Homo sapiens: one gene and its partners. The protein of the gene in region 1 purifies or fractionates together with the protein of each later gene. This does not show direct contact. Each region holds a gene or a part of one and is shown in the gene's direction. Other genes may lie near its edges. The genes, in order: ASB15, DLD, GPI and SVIL.

The links.
Region 2: the proteins of ASB15 (region 1) and DLD purify together in Homo sapiens (affinity purification with mass spectrometry, with the first as the bait; one large-scale study listed by BioGRID). This does not show direct contact.
Region 3: the proteins of ASB15 (region 1) and GPI purify together in Homo sapiens (affinity purification with mass spectrometry, with the first as the bait; one large-scale study listed by BioGRID). This does not show direct contact.
Region 4: the proteins of ASB15 (region 1) and SVIL purify together in Homo sapiens (affinity purification with mass spectrometry, with the first as the bait; one large-scale study listed by BioGRID). This does not show direct contact.

Annotation. Positions count from the first base shown.
Region 1 is NC_000007.14:123,628,683-123,634,004, forward strand, and holds part of ASB15 (ankyrin repeat and SOCS box protein 15), read left to right. Parts: intron 1-181; coding exon 182-752; intron 753-1,283; coding exon 1,284-1,437; intron 1,438-5,322.
Region 2 is NC_000007.14:107,914,004-107,919,083, forward strand, and holds part of DLD (dihydrolipoyl dehydrogenase, mitochondrial isoform 1 precursor), read left to right. Parts: intron 1-1,502; coding exon 1,503-1,693; intron 1,694-2,790; coding exon 2,791-2,961; intron 2,962-3,269; coding exon 3,270-3,459; intron 3,460-3,920; coding exon 3,921-4,058; intron 4,059-5,006; coding exon 5,007-5,080. UniProt on the Homo sapiens protein: Lipoamide dehydrogenase is a component of the glycine cleavage system as well as an E3 component of three alpha-ketoacid dehydrogenase complexes (pyruvate-, alpha-ketoglutarate-, and branched-chain amino acid-dehydrogenase complex).
Region 3 is NC_000019.10:34,367,459-34,372,780, forward strand, and holds part of GPI (glucose-6-phosphate isomerase), read left to right. Parts: intron 1-1,124; coding exon 1,125-1,244; intron 1,245-5,322. UniProt on the Homo sapiens protein: In the cytoplasm, catalyzes the conversion of glucose-6-phosphate to fructose-6-phosphate, the second step in glycolysis, and the reverse reaction during gluconeogenesis.
Region 4 is NC_000010.11:29,459,520-29,464,841, reverse strand, and holds part of SVIL (supervillin), read left to right. Parts: intron 1-1,206; coding exon 1,207-1,350; intron 1,351-2,440; coding exon 2,441-2,565; intron 2,566-5,322.

The DNA of each region.
Region 1 (5,322 bases):
CATTACACTAAACTAAATAGTTGTACCTCGGCAGACAAAGGTTAAATGTTTCAGTATAAAGTTATCTAGAGAAAATAAGGGAAACTATACAACTTGCATTCACTTATCTAGTGAGAACGGTAGTTTATTTAATTTCTTGATTTTCTTTATGGCAAGTAGATATTTGACTTTTTTCTTTTAGTGCACTGAAATATCTTATCCCAGTAACATCTAAAAATGCAATTCGGAAAAGTGGGCTAACACCAATTCACTCAGCAGCAGATGGACAAAATGCACAGTGTCTAGAACTGCTCATTGAAAATGGTTTTGATGTCAACACTCTACTTGCTGACCACATTTCCCAGAGCTATGACGATGAGAGGAAGACTGCGCTGTATTTTGGCGTTTCTAATAATGACGTTCATTGCACAGAAGTCCTTCTGGCTGCAGGTGCAGACCCAAACTTAGATCCCCTCAACTGTCTACTTGTTGCAGTGAGGGCCAATAATTATGAAATTGTCAGGCTGCTTCTCTCCCATGGAGCTAATGTCAATTGTTATTTTATGCATGTGAATGACACTCGTTTCCCCAGTGTCATTCAATATGCTCTAAACGACGAGGTAATGCTGAGGCTATTGCTGAATAATGGCTATCAAGTGGAGATGTGCTTTGACTGCATGCATGGTGACATCTTTGGAAATTCATTTGTGTGGTCAGAGATACAGGAAGAGGTGCTGCCAGGATGGACATCTTGTGTAATAAAAGATAACCCGGTGAGTTATGCCTTTTCTGCTTTATATTGAGTTATCATCCTAATTTAATACATGTTCATTCAATTAGGGATGTTACAAGAAAAGAAAAATAAACTCTAATTTTTCTATTTTTCTTGTTTTTTCAATTTTTGTATGCAATGATACAGGGATATAAGCATAAATCTAGCCCCCCAACCTCTCCCCCAAAAATATGTTGTTTGTTTTTTCTTGACTTGAAAACTGAATGTAGAAGAATGTGAAAATGTATGTAATTAGTCACTTCTGCCTGTTTGGTAGAATATTGGGGCCAGATGGGAAGAAGCATGACTTCTCCATGCTTTGCTGACTACAATCACATCAGAGCCAGGCGAGTCTTCAGGGCTGATGGTTTCACAGAGAGAAGCAAACAATTTATTTTTAATTTTTGTTCATTACAAGGAGAGATCTTTTATTTTCTGTAGTAAAACAGAGTAATTTTTCCATAACACAATTGAGTGTTTATGTATATGATATTAAAAATACTACTAAATTAAATTTTATCAATTCTCTCAGTTCTGTGAGTTTATTACAGTTCCTTGGATGAAGCACTTGGTAGGCAGAGTTACTCGTGTACTAATAGATTACATGGATTATGTTCCTCTGTGTGCTAAACTGAAGTCTGCACTAGAAGTACAGAGAGAATGGCCAGAAATCCGCCAAATACTAGGTAAAAACCAAAAGTTTTGCCTACAATTTTTAAATTAAGAACTTATATGGGGGAAATTTCTTAATGTCTTCTTTGATACTTTTCCTATGCTACTCTACTGTATTTCCAGAATTATCTGGGTTTTAAAATCATCCTTAACACTTCCTCTGTTGTAAGATACATATTTTCATTTTTCTTTATATTTTCCAGCTTTGTAATTGTATAATGAGTAATACTACAGCTATATTAACGTTCTGATTACAATTCATTTTAAAAATTAACTTCTATAATATCATACAATACGTAGACTGCAAGCTCCATGTGGGTAGAGATCTACTTTGTTTCTTGTTATATTTGCAAGGCTTAGCATAGTGCCTAGTAAGTAGTACATTTCAATAAATATGGAGTAAATGAATGAACAGCAGGGATTAGAATTACTCTTTTTGACATGCTTTCTCTGGGGTCTTTATTGACAAAGTCCTACCATCAAAGGTTAGTATTTGTAGACAGGCCATTTTGTCTTTTCTAGGTGAAAGTTTACCATGAAAATGAATAATACAAGTTTCAATGAAAGTACATTTTTAAATAATGCAAATACAAATAAAAACCAGAAAAATATCATAGATTTGAGATGCTTTCACTTTCAAAATATAAGTTTGGAAAAATAAACTTTCAAAACCTAGTTGGACATCAATTTCATGAAGCCTAAAGAAGCATTATAGAATTTTATATGACATTTAAATAATTTGACATTTTTAATGTACCTGAATCAGCCTTCCCCTGGAATTAGTTCTATAATAGAAGAGACTTTGCAGCAACTAAAACAGGAGTCTTGGAGAATCTGATGAGTAATATAGTATTGTTAGCCCAGAAATTGAGCTCTGGGGTCAGATAGACCTAGAATGAAATGAAATTCTGGCCTTGCCTAGGAGTAGGATTGCTAGATTATAAAATGCATATGTAATTCAGGACTGATGTTTTCATGATAAAAAGCAACAATTTATTGTTACCATTTTTGCTTCTCTAAGTGGAGGAGGATTTTTTTATTTCCTATAAAAAGACCAAGATAGCCATCCTAGTTGTGTGACTTTGAGCAAGTTACTTATTCTTCTTATGCCTAGGTTTTCCCATTGCAAAGTAGATGTAAGATAGTATTAACCTCATAAAGTTGTTGTGGGAATCTAAAGAAATAATGCATATAAGGTGGTAGTGTCTAGAATACTTAAATTACTTAATAAATTTATTTAGTTTTAAAACTAAAGTATTAACATTTTTATGTTTTTACTACATGGTAAGTTTATGTGAGGTATCTGAAATGTATATGTACAGTGTGCTATGAAATATTGTAAAGTATTATCATGCTTATTTTTTACAAATAAAAAGCTAAGCCTAAGGGAAATTACAAAACAGTCTAGACCCTATGCATTCTTGAAAACCACTTCTCTAAGTTCCCTTCCTGGACTTAAGCCCGCATTGAGAGTAAAATCAAAAATCGAGCAGGACAGAAACAAGAAAGGACCCACAAAAAAGTTGGGGTGGCAAACAGAGCCAGGAAACCTCAGAGATCTAACCACCATATTTTGAGTCATTGCAAGAAAATAATAGAGTAAGAAGCTCTGCAAAGTTAGAAGAGCTATCTGGAACCAAGCATCCTTCTAAAAAGTCAAGAAAACTAAATGCAAATAAAAATGAGCAACAGAGAGGGCGCGGTGGCTCACACCTGTAATCTCAGCACTTTGGGAGGCCGAGGCGAACGGATCACGAGGTCAGGAGATCGAGACCACCCTGGCTAACAAGGTGAAACCCCGTCTCTACTAAAAATACAAAAAATTAGCCGGGCGTGCTGGCGGGCGCCTGTAATCCCAGCTACTCAGGAGGCTGAGGCAGGAGAATGGCGTGAACCCGGGAGGCGGAGCTTGCAGTGAGCCGAGATCGCCCCACTGCACTCCAGCCTGGGCGACAGAGCGAGACTCCATCTCAAAAATAATAATAATAATAATAATAGAAAGAAGAACAGAATAATATCCCCACGGGCAATGAATACATAACTTAAAAAATGCAAACCTTCTATTTCAAAAATGAGCTAAAAAGCATGAGGAAAATAATATCAGATATGAAAGAACAATACGAGTCAAAATTTGAAAAATTCAGAAATCAGGTAACAACTGAGGAAAGATTTAGGAATAAAAATTAGAAAAAATTAATGTCAAATGTGAAGACTGAACTAGAATGAAAACAAGAACTAGCAACACAGTTGACAATACATTGAGAGATATAAAAGAGGATATGGAAGAAAAATTGTAAATCAAATATAAACGAAGAAATAGATAAAAGGATTTTAAAATATGTATATTTGTTTATTTCAATAGGTTTTGGGGGAACGGGTCGTGTTGGTTATATGGATAAGTTGTTTGGCGGTGATTTCTGAGATTTTGGTGCACCCATCACCTAAGCAGTGTACACTGTACCCAATGTGTACTCTTTTATCCCTGACCCACCCTTCCCCCTGAGTCCTCAAAGTCCATTGTATCATTCTTATGCCTTTGCATCCCTGTAGCTTAGATAAAAGGATTTGAAAGACAGCTAAAAACATTGATGACAGACAATGAATAGTCAATATATGGATAATAGGATTCCTTGAAAAGGAAAACCAAATCAAGGGAACATAAGAAATACAAAAAACTAAGTTTCAAGAAAAACTTGTAATAAAAAAGAAAGATTTGAAACTATAATATATAAAATACTATATCCTTTGGGCACATAGGCAAAAAGAACAAGTGACTTATAAGAGAAAAAAATAGATTATTATTAAACTTTTCATCAACAATACTTTATGCCAAAAGACAATGGAGTAACATATTTAAGACTCTCCTTGGAAGGAAAATGTGAGGCAAGGATGCTTACACAGCAAAATTGACTTCCAATGATCAATGTAGGCAAACTGTTGTCAGCATGCAAGAACTCAGGAAATATTGTTCCTCTTGCTGACGTCCAAAGGATCCACTAAGAAATGGCCTTTAGACAACCCAAAATGATTAGCGAGATATCACCATGAGGACTAGTATTAAACAAGGCTAACACTAAACAGAATGCCAAGACTAAGTGAGAGTTAAAAGGGAGAAGATGCAATACATAATGGTTATATGCTCTGATAAAATAGATACAGCACAATTATTTATTTTTGAATATTAGTACATAGATAAAATAAATAATATTTAATAATTAGAATACATATTTTTAAATATCTTAAAATATTGATAGTGATATAATATTAATATTGTTATGCTGAGGATGAGAGATATATTCAGTAAATGAGTAATTAAGGAATATTCCAATTCCATTACTCTTTGTATCCTTGAAACCAAGGATTGTCAGTGTGGCAGAAAGAAAATACAGATGTAATAGAGAAGAGATTAAAGAGAAATCCTGTAGTCCTGAATTTGAATTAGAAATAACAATATAAACTCATAAGCTATTTTATCTTGAAAGCATCTGTGTGCATGTGGATTATGCTGAGTGTGTGTGTGTGTGTGTGCACGCGCGCGCACGTGCGTCTGTTTACAGATAAGTCTTAGAAATAATGATGAACCCAGTAGCAATGAGCATTCCTACGACCCAGATTTTGGCCTGGAAATGCCATTTCCTAACAAAAGAAACCAGGGTTTTTGCTGGAGGTTGTTTTGTTTTGTTTTTGAGAAATGGATGATTGTATCTGGGGAAGGAAATGAATAAGATGAACCTGGAACATCTGGTCATACCAGAAAGCAAAGAAACTCTGAAAGACTACATGATTCATGACAAAAGAATTCAGGGGCTAACTTGAAGAGGCTCCAACTGGCCAAAGATGGGACAATTTAAGTTTCAAAAAGGGTAATGATTTCAATGAATTGAAGCCAATCTATTTAA
Region 2 (5,080 bases), about 16 Mb from region 1:
GTTAATGTGATGAATCATGTTTATTGATTTACATATGTTGAATCATCCTTGCATCTCTGGGATGAATCCTGCTTGATCATGGTGAATGATCTTTTTATGTGTTGTTGAATTCAATTCATTGTGGTTTTAACTTAGATTTCTCTAATGACTTACGGGGTTGAGCATTTTTTAATGTACTTACGTGCCATCTCTATATCTTCCCTCTTCAGACATTTGTCCATTTTTTATTGAATTTTTCTTATTGAATTTGGAGAATTCTTTATATATTCTGGATATAAATCCCTTATCAGATAGAAGTTTTGTAATTTTTTTCCCCAGTCTGTGGCTTCTGTTTTTGTGTTCTCAATGTTATCTAAGACTTTCTAATTTTGACAAAGTCCAATTTATCATTTTTCTTTTATGGATTGTGCTGTTGGTGTTACATCAAAGAAATCTTCGCCTAACTCAAGGTCACTTCTAGGATTTCTTCTCCTAGGTGTTCTTCTGGAAGTTTCATAGTATTGGATTTTACATTTAGGTCCATGATCCATTTTGAGTTAACTTTTATATATACGTATTGTTAGATTTTTAGTGTCACTATATTGCCTCTAGTTAACTCAGTCTTCATACTAGAAATTAATGAGATTTTTTAAATGAACGCCCACACCTAATTTAGGGAAGGTAAACTTTTATAGTTCATTTGAATTACCAGATGATTTTAATATACATTCTTGCAAAGGATATGTTCATGGTTTTTCATATTTAATGCTGTGAAATTATGTTCATCTTGCCAGTTATGTATTGTTTAATATATAATTATTTAGAAGTTATACTAATTGTCAAAATGTTAAAATAAACTAGCATTCAGTTTAAATTATAATTTGAATGAAAAAGTAAACATTTGTCCTTTGTTGAGAAAAGAAAATAGGAAGCCAGTTTAATATTCTGCAAACATCAGTGATTTAGTAACCTGTTTCCTTTTCCTCAAGACTTTTGTACTTGCTGTTTCCCTCTGCCTAGAGCAACACTCTTGCCCCAGTTAACTGGGTAGTTCATTGCCTCACTCCTTCAAGTTTTGTGCAAATGTCACTCCCAGTGAGGCTTTCCCCAAACGTGCTATTTAAAATTGTAATCCCAGTAATCAGTGGTCCTAGTTCTACTTCCTGTTTTATTTTTCCTGTAGCACTTTATTCTCTGTTATGAATTTTACATATTTGTCTATGTCCCCTGCCAGAATATAAGATCCCTGAGAACAGAGATTTTTGCTTTGTTTACTAATGTATGCCTAGAAGCTAAAATATTGCCTACCATGTAGTAGATGTTCAACAAATGTTGAATGAGTAAGTTAATAAATGTATGAAGTTATACATATTTAACACAGGGTCAATTTTAAACCTCGGAGCTTCTCATAGGAACATACTAGCGAAAGAAGAAAATGTTTTACAATAAATTATTAAGATGATTTCGTAAACATTTGCTATAGAAACTTTTATGATTATTGGGTTTTTTTAATTTATTTGCAGGGTTCAGTTTGGCAAAGACTTGGTGCAGATGTGACAGCAGTTGAATTTTTAGGTCATGTAGGTGGAGTTGGAATTGATATGGAGATATCTAAAAACTTTCAACGCATCCTTCAAAAACAGGGGTTTAAATTTAAATTGAATACAAAGGTTACTGGTGCTACCAAGAAGTCAGATGGAAAAATTGATGTTTCGTAAGTATACATCATTTGTTTTTGATGTATCATCCCTGTCTCTTTAAGCAAAACACTCAAGTTTCAAAATCAGTTTAGCAAATATAGGGTTTTTTCTAACTTAAGGTCATTTTATTACTTAATATAACTCAGTTGCTTATCAAATTATTGCATTAGCACATTGAAATTTATGATTAGGTTAATGCTAGAAAGAGAATCCAATATTCTCATTGTTGTGCCTTCTTATAGTACATTCAGAAAAATTTAAATTCCCAATAATAAGTAAAATTGAATCAATATTTTTAGGCAGATACATGGGGAAATCAATAATAAAAGATTGCTTACTATATGTCTGGTACTCTACTGATTAAATACTTTAATGGCATTTAACTTATTGAATTAGTTTTTAAATAAATATTTAAATTAAATAGTTAATAGTATTTAAATAGTTTAATGACTTTTACTCAAAGATAAGAAGCTGAATTCATTGACTAATTAATGACTAACTTGTCACACAGCTAGTGGGTGGCAGTCAGTAGTTGAATTTGGATTTCTGTGACTCAAAGACCTGTATTCTTAACTGCTGTTTTATTATACTGTGGTTTTTGTGAGATTTTAATAACAGACCTCTAGATTTTAATGATAGATCTCTTTCATTGTCTGACTCTTATGTTTATATTCAAATAAACTTATATTGTTAAAAATGTCATCAGTGCCGGCTGGGCATGGTGGCTCACACCTGTAATCCCAGCATTTTGGGAGGCTGAGATGGGCAGATCATGAAGTCAAGAGATCAAGACCAGCCTGGCAACATGGTGAAACCCCGTCTCTACTAAAAATACAAAAATTAGCTGGGCGTGGTGGCGCGTGCCTGTAGTCCCAGCTACTAGGGAGGCTGAGGCAGGAGAATCTCTGGAACCTGGGAGGTGGAGGTTGCAGTGAGCCGAGATTGCACCACTGTACTCCAGTCTGGCGACAGAGCAAGACTCTGTCTCAAAAACAAAACAAAACAAAAATGAAAATGTCATCAACACTTGAGAAATTGCTGGCCTTAAATTTCTAAGCCTATCAATTTATGTAGGTGTGTATTTAACATTTATACACTGTTTGTTATCTAGTATTGAAGCTGCTTCTGGTGGTAAAGCTGAAGTTATCACTTGTGATGTACTCTTGGTTTGCATTGGCCGACGACCCTTTACTAAGAATTTGGGACTAGAAGAGCTGGGAATTGAACTAGATCCCAGAGGTAGAATTCCAGTCAATACCAGATTTCAAACTAAAATTCCAAAGTAAGTTGGATAATTGTCTGCATTTTCAGTAATTTTAAAATTGATTTCAAACAGTATTTTGAAAAGTAAGATTTTTATGCTTAAAATATGTATTGGCTTTGGGGAAGAATAGTAAACTTACAAAATGTAAAATAAAAAATAACTGAATTTTACTCAAAGATAAGCTGAATTCATAGATTTTTGAAGAGCTGCATTTGATGTATTTTTTGGTGACTTGTTTACTGGAAACTTTTGTTACCATAATGTAACTGAAGGTAAGTAGCTGTGATTTCAGAAATTCATTGTGTTTCTTTTGATTTCTGTGGTAGTATCTATGCCATTGGTGATGTAGTTGCTGGTCCAATGCTGGCTCACAAAGCAGAGGATGAAGGCATTATCTGTGTTGAAGGAATGGCTGGTGGTGCTGTGCACATTGACTACAATTGTGTGCCATCAGTGATTTACACACACCCTGAAGTTGCTTGGGTTGGCAAATCAGAAGAGCAGTTGAAAGAAGAGGTAAGTCTGAACATGGGTGGTTTTAAGCCAATGTGTGAGTTGTGCCAATGACATTGGTGGTTGAGAAACAGCATTTTATCATTATGCTAATATATTTAACAGCTGTGAAATATTGTTTAGCTTATATATTTTTCCCTTGTTAGCATTATAAAGAGATCATTCACAGATTTATCAGCAGTAATTGAGAGGAAGAGAAGTTGCCTATATTAAAAAACTAGTAATTCCAGATCTTTTATATTTGGCTTTGAAATATAACCAGATGGACAGACATTTGTATTTGCTTGTATTCGTGCCTGAGATATAGTTCATTAACCAGTCTTCTGGTCTTTCCTTTCCTTCTATGTGCTTTGCGAACAATTCCCTTCTTGGGATTTATTTTCTGAACAAATGGTAGATGATTTTACAAATTGGAAAGAACTTTTCTGGCAGTTACGTAGATTCTTTTTTTCTGACTGTCACAGGGTATTGAGTACAAAGTTGGGAAATTCCCATTTGCTGCTAACAGCAGAGCTAAGACAAATGCTGACACAGATGGCATGGTGAAGATCCTTGGGCAGAAATCGACAGACAGAGTACTGGGAGCACATATTCTTGGACCAGTGAGTATTGTAAAACCAGAGAAATCCCATTAAGATTTCTAGAAAGCATTGCTGTTTATTAATTATAAACCACCTGGTGTTAGTCTGAGGTTGCTCATTTCCAGCAAAACTTTGAATATGGCTCTCTGTGCATCATTTCTAGAAGGATACCAGCAGCACTCTCACAGTCTTGCCCACTGTATCATCTACTTTGTCCTGCAGCCAAGATTCTCTCTTTAAAACATACACCAGATTATGCCCCTTAAAATCCTCCAGTGGTGCTTTTCAACTTCAGATTGTTACATCCAAGGCCTCACTGAATCTGTTTGTGCCTACTTCTCTGACCTCTTCTTTTTCTGCTCTCTTTTACTCATTAATGCCATGTCACATGGGCCTTCTCTCATTTTCACAACAGACCAAATATTTGCATTTTAGGGCCTTTGTGCTTAAGATACCCTCTGCTTAGACTGTTCTGCCTCCAGATCTTTGAATGGCTGGCTCCTTATTATTCAGGTCTCAGCTCAAATGTTACCTCCTAAGGGAAGCCTTTCCTACCACTGAGCCTAAAGTATGTATCTTTCTTGTAGATATCTCTTGTATCTGATGTAACAATAATGAGAATAGAATATTTGAGTGCTGTGTCACTTTAGTATACATTTTGTTATTTTTACATCAGCTTTTTGAAATAGGTGCTGTTATTTTTGAGGTGAAGAAACTGAATGAAGCACAAAGAACCAATGAATGGTTAAGGTAGTAAGTGGTAGATATGAATTGAAGGCCCTTTGGCTCCAGAGCCCAAGCTCTTCTGTGTCACCTTTTCTATTAAGCTTTTCCTGACTTTTCTTCAACTGATAAAGAAACAGATTTAAGGCGTTTTTAAGATCTAAAAGCTTCCCCTCAACAATTGCTATCCTATTAGCATGTAGTTTTTGCCTTGGAAGCAAATTTACTTGGCTTGTTATTTTAAAGGGTGCTGGAGAAATGGTAAATGAAGCTGCTCTTGCTTTGGAATATGGAGCATCCTGTGAAGATATAGCTAGAGT
Region 3 (5,322 bases), on another chromosome or scaffold:
GGTCTAAGCTGAGAGAGGATGCAATCAAGGAAGGCTTTCTGGAGGAGTGCATTTGCCAATAAAATGTGGCGCAGGAGTGGGGTCTGGCAGGGTGAGGGTGGGGTGGCATGAAGCCCTCCACCTTAGCAAGCCTCTCACTGGGTCGGAATCCCAAGATGATCCTTTTCCTGCCCACCTGGGGTCGTTAGACCTTCCCTCAAGGACTCCTCTGCTGACTTCAGGCCATTTCACTCACGTGGCTGGGCCAGCCGCCTGGCACCCGTCACAGACTTCAAGTCTGGTTTGGTTCCTGGCAGTTGGTAGTTATCGGGCTGCTTGGTGAGGGAAGCTTGAGTTGCATGCCTTGCTGCAAATCCAAGGAGCTGAGGACACTGCCTAAAACGTGCCAGCAAACACCATGGACACACATTGGGAGGATGAGGTTACTTCAGGCTTCATGAGCACTCATCTTCGGAAAGCGTTTATTTATTTATTTATTTTGAGATGGAGTCTTGCTCTGTCGCCCAGGCTGGAGTGCAGTGGTGCGATCTTGGCTCACTGCAACCTCTGTCTAATGGGTTCAGGCGATTCTCTGCCTCAGATTCCTGAGTAGCTGGAACTACAGGTGTGTGCCACCCCCACCTGGCTGATTTTTGTATTTTTAGTAGAGACAGGATGTCACCATGTTGGCCAGGCTGGTCTCGAATTCATGACCTCAAGTTATCCACCTGCCATGGCCTCCCAGAGTTCCGGGATTACAGGCGTGAGCCATGGCGCCCGGCCTCTGAAAGCATTTATTGCTTGTTTCTGACATGTATTGTTGCCATTCTCTGCCTTTGCTCACTGTTCCTCTTTTCTCTCACTGTTCATGCCCTGAGCATCTCTGGCAGGCCTTCGGGGCCTGTCCTAGGCATATATGGGTCCCCTCCTCTCCTCCTGACTGTCTGCAGCACATAAGTCCTTGGGGAGCTCCTACTCCTCTAAGCATACAGTGGGTTCTTGGAACAAGGTTATGGTGCTAACAGAGACCTCAGGGCCTGCCTGTCTAGTGGATAGAGGGCCGAGCTATGGCACCATGCCCAGCTGGGAGCATGGCTGCCTGGGGTTGGGGGGGGCAGTCTTTATATCCTGACCGTAATCCCCAGGGTCGAGCCGTGCTGCACGTGGCTCTGCGGAACCGGTCAAACACACCCATCCTGGTAGACGGCAAGGATGTGATGCCAGAGGTCAACAAGGTTCTGGACAAGATGAAGTCTTTCTGCCAGGTAAGTGGCTACTGGGCCGGACTCACCCTTGGCCGTGTGTGTGAGTTATTTGGGAATCTGGGAGCCCTAAGGGGCAGCTCTTCCCTCTTCTTGTAGGCAGGACTCAGGTTCTCACTGCAGCTTAAGGGAGGGGTTGCCTGTGTGATCGCTGACCCTGGAGTCTCTGCTGAGGCCTGAATTTCTCCTGGCTCTGCTCTGAAGGAATCTGCTGCTGGCAGAAGTGGGGCCAGTTTCTTTCCTGAATTGTAGACACCTATGGACTCATGGTGACAAACCACAGAGGCTTCAAATGAAAAGTGGGGCCCCTGAGAGACAGGACAGTCAGGAAAGGAAGGAGCTTTTTCTTTTTTCTTTTTTTTTTTTTGAGATGGAGTCTCACTCTCTCGCCCAGAGTGGACTGCAGTCGTGCTATCTCAGCTCACTGCAACTTCCGCCTCCTGGATTCAAGCTATTCTCCTACCTCAGCCTCCCGAGTAGCTGGAATTACAATTATGCGCCACCCTGCTCAGCTAATTTTTGTATTTTTAGTAGAGACGGGATTTCACCATGTTGGCCAGGCTGGTCTCAAACCCCTGACCTCAGGTGATCTGCCTGCCTCACCTGGGATTACAGGCATGAGCCACTGCGCCTGGCCGGAAGGAGCTTTTTCTAATCTCTTTTGTCATACGCCCTTATCACCCAGTCTAGAAACAGATAAAACATTGTAAAATTTCCTCAACCCTGGCTGGGCGCGATGGCTCATGCCTGTGATTCCTGAACTTTGAGAGGCCGGGGTGGGTGGATCACTTGAGGTAAGGAGTTCGAGACCAGCCTGGCCATCATGGTGAAACCCCATCTCCACTAAAAATACAAAAATTAGCCAGTTTTGGTGACATACGCCTGCAATCCCAGCTACTTGGGAGACTGAGGCAGGAGAATCGCTTGAACCCGTGCGGCAGAGGTTGCAGTGAGCTGCGATTGCGCCACTGCACTCCAGCCTGGGCGACAGAGGGAGACTCTGTCAAAAAAAAAAAAAAATTTCCTCATCCCCATTCCCAGCTAACCCTCCAGAAGCAGCCTTTGTAAAGTTTCCTGTAGCCAGGCGCAGCAGCTCATACCTCTATTCCCAACTATTCAGGAGGCTGAGGTGGGAGGATGGCTTGAGCCTGGGAAGTTGAGGCTGCAGTGAGCCATGGTGACACCACTGCACTGCAGCCTGGGCGACAGCAAGATCGTGTCTCTAAATAAATTTAAAAAATAGAAAAGTTTTCCTGTGAAGTCTTCCAGAAAGTTCCTGTGCACATACACATCTGTCATCTCCTCTTTGAAACACGTACACATGTGCACATGCACACAGGTTGGTTTTCTCCCTGCTCCTCTGAAGCTTATTTCCACCTGGAAGTATGTAAGCAGTGTCCGTGTGTCAGTGACAGTGCATGTAACATGCCTTCTTTTCCTTGTGTGTAGGGTGGTAGGGGTTGCCTCAGAGACCAGCTAAGTTTCCCCACATCAAGCACTTGCCTCAGTGTCTACCCTAGCGGTGATTCTGCAGGGGTGGGTTGGCAGACATCCTCACGTCTGGAGAACGAGGGTGATGCCGGTGTGCCTGTGTGGGCTGTGCATGCTACGAGGGTGATCGTCCAAACTCTTGTCAGCTGTGATCATTTGCTGCTTGTCCTAGGAGCAGTGGCCTCCATGTGTGGCTGGTCAGAGTCCAGTTACTTTGGCCAAGAGCCACTTTCAGACCTGAAAATGGGCTGGGTGCAGTGGCTCACGCCTGTAATCCCAGCACTCTGGGAGGCTGAGGCAGGTGGATCATGTGAGGTCGGGAGTTTGAGATCAGCCTGATCAACATGGTGAAACGCCGTCTGTACTAAAAATACAAAAAAATTACCTGGGCGGGCATGGTGGCGAGCACCTGTAATATCAGCTACTGGGGAGGCTGAGGCAGGAGAATCTCTTGAACCCGGGAGGCAGAGGTTGCAGTGAGCCAAGATCACGCTACTGCACTCCAGCCTGGGTGACAGAGTGAGGCTCTGTCTCAAAAAAAAAAAACCAACAAAAAAACCAACCCATCTCTGGAAAAAATAAATAAATCAGCTAGGTGTGGTGGTGTATCCCAGCTACTTGGGAGGCTGGGGTGGGAGGATTGCTTGAGCCCGGGAGGTTGAGTCTGTACTGAGCTGAGATTGTGCCACTGTCCTCCAGCTCAGGTGACAGAGTGAGACGCCTCCAGGGCAAGGAAGTTGTGGGGTCCTGATGGGAATCTGGATTTCCTGAATGTCACTTAGGGTGATCAGTCCATGTGATGGTCTTTGGGTGTGTGGCGGGGCCTTTCCAGCCATCTGCTGTGAGTGGCAGAGCTGAAGTGCATTAAAAGCCTAGTGCTGTGTGATCAGTCTGGGTGTGCTCAGCCATGCCACATGGCGAGGATGGCACTGCACCGTCTGGGGTGCTGTTTCCAGGAAAGCCTTCCCTTAAAGCTGGCCACTGGAGTACCTGACTCAGGCTGATAAGGTATTTATAGTTCAAAAAAAGTTGCTGAATGGCAGTAATCCCCTGGTGAGGAACATTCCCCATGGCTGTGCTCTCCAAAGTTTGCCAAGATTGGGTGAAGACGTTCACTGTGACCTTGATTGTAGTGGCAAAACCTGAAACCAAGCTGTACTCATTTGTCAGGGGACTTACAAAGTAGAGTCAGCACATATTCATATACTGTCATCCTGGGCACCAATAGGGATTAGGGAGCTATAGTTGGATTGATCTGCCATGCTGTTCAGGATGGACTGGGAAGTTGAAAAAGGAAGTTGCAGAATTGGTGGGTATGGTAAAGACTCATTTGGTCAAATGAAGGCTGGGTGTAATTGTAATAAAGATAGACACATTTGGCTTGGTGCAGTGGCTCACACCTGTAATCCCAGCACCTTGGGAGGCCGAGGTGGGTGGATCACGAGGTCAGGAGTTCAAGACAAGCCTGGCCAACATAATGAAACCCCATCTCTACTAAAAAAAAATACAAAAAAGTTAGCCTGGCATGGTGGTGCATGCCTGTAGTCCCAGCTACTCGGGAGGCTGAGGCAGGAGAATCACTTGAACCCCAGAGGTGGAGGTTGCAGTGAGCCAAGATCACGCCACTGCACTCCAGCTTGGGCAACAGAGTGAGACTTTGTCTCAAAAAGAAAAAAAAAAAGACACATTTTTCCTCTGGGATGCTTCATTATAACAAACCTTTGACAGTCGGGAAAGGAGACTTGCTTTTTTTTTTTTGAGACAGAGTCTTACTCTGTTGCCCAGGCTGGAGTGCAATGGCGAGTTCTCGGCTCACTGCAACCTCCGCCTCCCAGGTTCAAGCAATTCTCCTGCCTCAGCCTCCTGAGTAGCTGGGATTACAGGCATCCGCCACCACACCCAGCTAATTTTTGTATTTTTAGTAGAGATGAGGTTTCACCATGTTGGTCAGGCTGGTCTCGAACTCCTGACCTCAGGTGATCCACCCACCTTGGCCTCCCAGAGTCCTGGGATTACAGGCATGAGCCACCACACCCAGCCAAGACTTGCTTTTTCTAACCTCTTTTGTCACACGCCTGTGAGGGAGGGTTGAGAAGTTGAACAACTTATTTTATTTCTTTCTGTATTGATGGAAATTTTCCCATGGCAGTTTATTTAAAGAAAAAGTAGGGCCAGGCACAGTTGCTCACATCTGTAATCCCAGCACTTTGGGAGGCAGAGGCAAGAGGATTGCTTGAGGCCAGGAGTATAATACCAGCCTGGGCAACATAACAAGACCCTGCCTTTAACAAAAATTTAAAAATTAGCCAGCTGTGGTGGTGTGTACCTATAGTCCTGGCTGCTTAGGAGGCTGAGGCGGGAGAATTGCTTGAGCCCAGGAATTTGAAGCTGCAGTGAGCTATGATCATACTCCTACATTCCAGGTCGAGCAACAGAGCGAGACCCTGTCGTTAAAACAAAACTAAAAAATACCCAGCAAGGTGCAGTGGCTCTTGTATAATCCCAGCATTTTGGAAGGGTGAATCGGATCACTGCAGGCCAGGAGTTCAAGACTAGCTTGGGCAACCTAGACCCTGTCTCTTTTTTGTTT
Region 4 (5,322 bases), on another chromosome or scaffold:
CAGCTGCCTCTCAGTTTGTGTTTGTTGCTTCTCACATTACAAGAGCCTGGAGCTGCAGCCAGGGACCTCATCTTGCACCGGGATCTCAGGGCAGCACTGAAAGTTTGCCCAGTGCACATGTCATGCTTGGAAAATCAGCCACCAGTAAGAGAGGGTGTGCCCACGCCCTTCATCCTGGGGCTCAGGGCGGGTTATCAACCTCCACTGGGCTTTTAAAGTGTGGTTTTCACAGAATCCTGAAATGCATGTCAGGAAAGGACTTACAGTGAGCCGACTAGCAAGAGTGAGAGGCATTTTGCCACCTGGAGTAAGAGTCAGACTGACAATTTGAGGAGGAGAAAAAGGTAGGAGGAAAAGGCAGTAGAACAGTTTTGATTTTTATTTCCTTTTATTTTATTTTTTAGAGACAGGGTCTTACTCTGTCATCCAGGCTGGAGTGCAGTGGCGCAGTCATGGCTCACTGCAGCCTCTAACTCTTGGGCTCAAGCGATCCTCTCTCCTTAGCTTCCTGAGTAGTGGAGACTACATGCATGCAGCACCATGCCTCGCTAATTTTTTTTTTCTTTTTGTAGAGATAGGGTCTCATCATGTGGCCCAGGCTGGTCTTCAACCTCCGGGCTCAAGCAGTCCTTCCTCCTCAGCCTCCCAAAGCACTGGGATTACAGGCATGAGCCACCACTCCCGGTGGCAGTTTTGCTTTTTAAGGCCCATTTCTCTGTAAGAGAGCCATGAGCTCACCTCACTGCTAAGCAATCGCGTGCAGGGCAGGAACGCCACTGACCTGTCTGCAGTGAGATGTGCGCTCCAGTGTTGATTGTGCTCTTTGGAGATATGCGGTGCTAACAGCCCCTTGAGTGGCACATGCATTATCCCTTCCACTCTTAGCACAGCCCTGCCAGTATCCAGAAGGGCCAGGGCCTTGAGCTGGGGCAAAGGGAGGAGGACCTGGAGGACGAGGAATGAAAAAGACCAACTCCTTGACACCACTTCTCTCTGCCTACAGGCTTCTCCCCGTTGAACTGTCAAAGGGCTGGGGTATCCTGGGTTTCTCTGTTTGCCCCTTTGCCCCTGGTTTGATGGCCAAGGGGGTTTCCCCCTGTGACACTGCAGTCAAGAGGGACAACATCCACTAGGTTGGGGGAGGAGTGAGCTAGAAGTGTCCGTGAAGGAGCTCCTGATGGTCTGGCCCTGTCCCTGCCCTCACAGCACTTTTCCTTGTTGACAATCACCACGAGGTGTACCTCTGGCAAGGCTGGTGGCCCATCGAGAACAAGATCACTGGTTCCGCCCGCATCCGCTGGGCCTCCGACCGGAAGAGTGCGATGGAGACTGTGCTCCAGTACTGCAAAGGTGAGGCTCCCTCTAACATGCCTGCAGCACGGAACAGATGGGGAAGCCCCTCAGGCATGCGCAGCCAGGAGACCCCCTTCCCCTTCTGTGCATGTCAGCCAGCATCCATCCATAAAGCCTGGCAGGTGGTGATGAAACCAATTTTTTCCCCTTTAACTTTTTGAGATGTATTAAGTTTTAGATTAGCGCATTCTCAGCTGCCAGCATGAAGAAGAACTAGTTTTTCTCTCTGATATTATGAGGCTAACTTGTTACCCTCAAGGATAAAGGCTGTATTGTGGAATGCCCCAGGCAGATTAAAACCCCGCTGTACTCGGGGTTGATCATGCTGAGAGACAAGTTGGCCTCTGCCCTGTACATTATCTGCAAGCACTACCACGCTGTTGGAGAATGGAGGTCTCCCCCAAACAGTGAACGGCCATTGCCAACCTTTTTATTATTCATTATTATTTTTAGTATTATATCCAAAGAGAAATACCCATAGTAAGTTCATGGTTCTTTACTATACACATGAAATTTCTAGTCTTTTATATAAAATGAAAATGCCAGTAATTAATCTTATTTAATTTTTATGGTTTCATTGACACAACTAGTTTAATGTCACTGAGTATGTGCAATGGATTCTCTTCCTGAAAAACTCTTTAGCAATAAATAACATATGAAACCTTCCACTCAATGTTATAGTGAATGTGGATGTATAAGATGCTGTCGTTCGCCGTCAGTCATTATGGGAGTTAATCCTGTGCTAGGAAATGAGACGGATGACTCTACAGGTGAATTCAGGAGGAAGAAAATGCTCCACCCAGAAGCTGCAGACAGAGCCTCTCTCTCCCTTCCAGGAATACACAGCGTTTTGTTAGGTTCAAGAAGTATAGACTCAGGTTGATTATAGGTCACTATGGTAGTCACAGGCATGAAACTAACAAACATCTTATATAAACATTATCCATGTGTTGTTATGAACTACTGGTAACTTGCATTTTAAGCATGAAGTCATGAGTTCTGGCAAAGAAGAAAAGATTTCAAGGGAAATCAGAGAAAGACAGGGTCTCCCTGGGGTCTACTGACATTGCAATCTGTGTAACTACAGGAAAAAATCTCAAGAAACCAGCCCCCAAGTCTTACCTTATCCACGCTGGTCTGGAGCCCCTGACATTCACCAATATGTTTCCCAGCTGGGAGCACAGAGAGGACATCGCTGAGATCACAGAGATGGTGAGCACGCTTTCCTGCCCTATGAAGGTGGCTCCTGCGCCTTTTGGATTGTGGGTTAACTTTACTTTGGGGAGAGCATCCAATTGCACTTTCAGAGTGGGAAAATATTTTTCCTTTTGCAACATCTTAACAAACCTACATAGAATTTGCTTAGGAAGAAGAGAAGTCTAATGGAAAATCAATTAACTATTTTAGTAATTTTCTACACGATACCCAAATTTTAAAAACTTAAAAGCAAAGGTGAGTTGAATCATGTTGAGGACTATATATGTACATAAAAGCTGCGAACTCTTCATTCTGTTTGCTAAGAACCTGTTGCTTGGCATTGCTTGTCTCTCAGTGTCCATGTGACGCACAACCAAACCCTCATGTTTCAGATGTTAACCTTGTGTAGAGGAGACACAAACGAAATCTGATGAATTAGTATGTTCAGAAAACTGAATGAATGGAGGTGCTGCGACTCCCTTATGATAAGGGATCACTCAACATCTCATTAATATTGTCTTTTATGAGACCACCTGGTATTTCTGCATGAGGCATTTATCATAACTTCTATCCACCAAAATATATTATAATCTAGAATGTTTTCTTTTCCAACCACACAGGAAAGAATTTTATTATAGCTATGTTGAATTTCTTATATATGAGCTATTAACATTGCTAGGAATAGCAAATCCAAGGATTTGTTTTGATTTGGTGAGAGATAGGTTTTTTACCATTTTGATTTTTTTTTACCATGTGAGAGCTGCTTTGCTTGGGGAAACGACCCAAGTGTATTTTATAGGAAATTCGAGTAATTTTAAACAAACAGAATCTACTTCTGCTTAGCAATGGAGAGGGCCTGTTGGGTAGTACAGACATCACTGCTCACCCTAACCTGTCTCCCTGGAGCCAAATGGACTTGATGTACACAGGGAAGGGGCTGACTTCAGCTTGGTGTCTGCCGCAGCCGGAACGAGATGTTTCTGTTCACTGCAACTGTGGTTTCGTGAAACCAGAAGGCTCTAGGGATTACGAGCTCTATGGCTGCTGCATGCAGTCTAAGTTCAGGAGTTACCAAATTGCCAGGGGTTCAGTCCAGGGCTTATTGCTCACTACACAGAAGAAAGCCAATCACTGAGACAAGCATAGCCAAGGAAGAAAGTTTATTTGGGTGCTACAGCCAAGGGGAACAGGACATAAGTCTCAAATCTGTGTCTCTGGCCTACTAAAATTAGGGATTTTTATAGCAGGGAAGAAATGTAACCATGTGTGGGAAACAGGAATTAGGGAGGGGTGAGGAAGAGGAGCTGGTCAACAGGAAGCGGGGGGTTGGTTAGGCATCATGGTGGGTAAGGGGTCTGGTAAGCTTCAGGTTTTGTTTTTGTTTTTTGAGACAGGGTCTTGCTCTGTTGCCCAGGCTGGAGTGCAGTGGTGTAATCACAGCTCACTGCAGCCTCCAGCTCCAGGCTCAGACAATCCTCCCACATCAGCCTCCCAGGTAGCTGGGACTACAAGCACACACCATAATGCCTGGCTAATTTGTTTTGTATTTTCAATGAGGTTTTGCCATGTCTCTCAGTCTGGTCTTGAACTCCTGAGCTCAAGCCATCTGCCCACCTCAGCCTCTCAAAGTGCTGGGATTACAAGCATGAGCCACTGCTGGCTTTTTGATACTATTGGAGATGCCTGATGGTTGGTTTCCTGAGAAAGGAACTCAGATAAGACAAATATAACTTTCTCGAATTTCAAGACTAGGAGAGTTAATTTCGACGTTTATTCCAAAGAAATCATAAACATCAGTTCTGTGGCACAGTTGAGCCACTTTCAGAAGGATATAACTCACCATCCTCCCTGTGTATTCACTATAGATCTTGGGGGTTAGCAGCGGGGCCATTTACTGTTGTGCAGGCCTGTGGGATTCCAGCCGGAGAAGAGTCAGGCTTCCCACACCAGCAAGTTATACAAATAATTAACATTCAGCAAGTGCCCACTCTGCACTAGGCACATCTCCAAGCACTTTACACTGATTTTCTCATTTATCACAACAGTCCATCAAGATATCTTATTATTATTCCCATTTTACTGGTGTGGGAGCAGAGACACAAAAACACGAAGTCACTTGGCCAAAGTGACTTTCAGTGAGTGGAGGAGTCAGTACTCAGACGCAGGCAAGATCATCCAAAATTCGCCTCTTCTTTTTTTAGAGAAAGGATCTTGCTTTGTCACCCAGGCTGCAGTGTGGTGACTCAATCATGGCTCACACAAACCTTGAACCCCTGGGCTCAAACGACCCTACCACCTCAGCCACCCCAAGTAGGTAGGACTACAGGTGCACACTTCCATGCCTAGCCTATTTTTGTATTCTTTATAGAGACAGGGTCTCATCATATTGCCCAAGCTGGTCTCCAACTCCTGGATTCAAGGACTCTTCCCACCTCAGCCTCCTACAGTGTTGAGATTACAGGCACAAGTCACTGCACCCAGCCCAAAACCTGCCTCTTGACCACCAGTCTGTTCCATGTATTTCTAATATGAGCAACAGCTCTTAGTCATGCATTCCCACCATCCACCCACCCAAAAGGAGAGCAGCCAATCTGGGGTCCCAAGTTTAATGGAGGAAGAGAATTTACCCAGAATAGTTTGTTCATATTCACACAGTGGTTTTAAAAACAAAAAAATTGATTCTGCTCCAGAATATTCTAGGTGCATTTTCTGACCTTCTTTTTCTATTGCAGATTAAGAAATGGGGCCAGGGGAGGGAAGGGGGGTGTGATT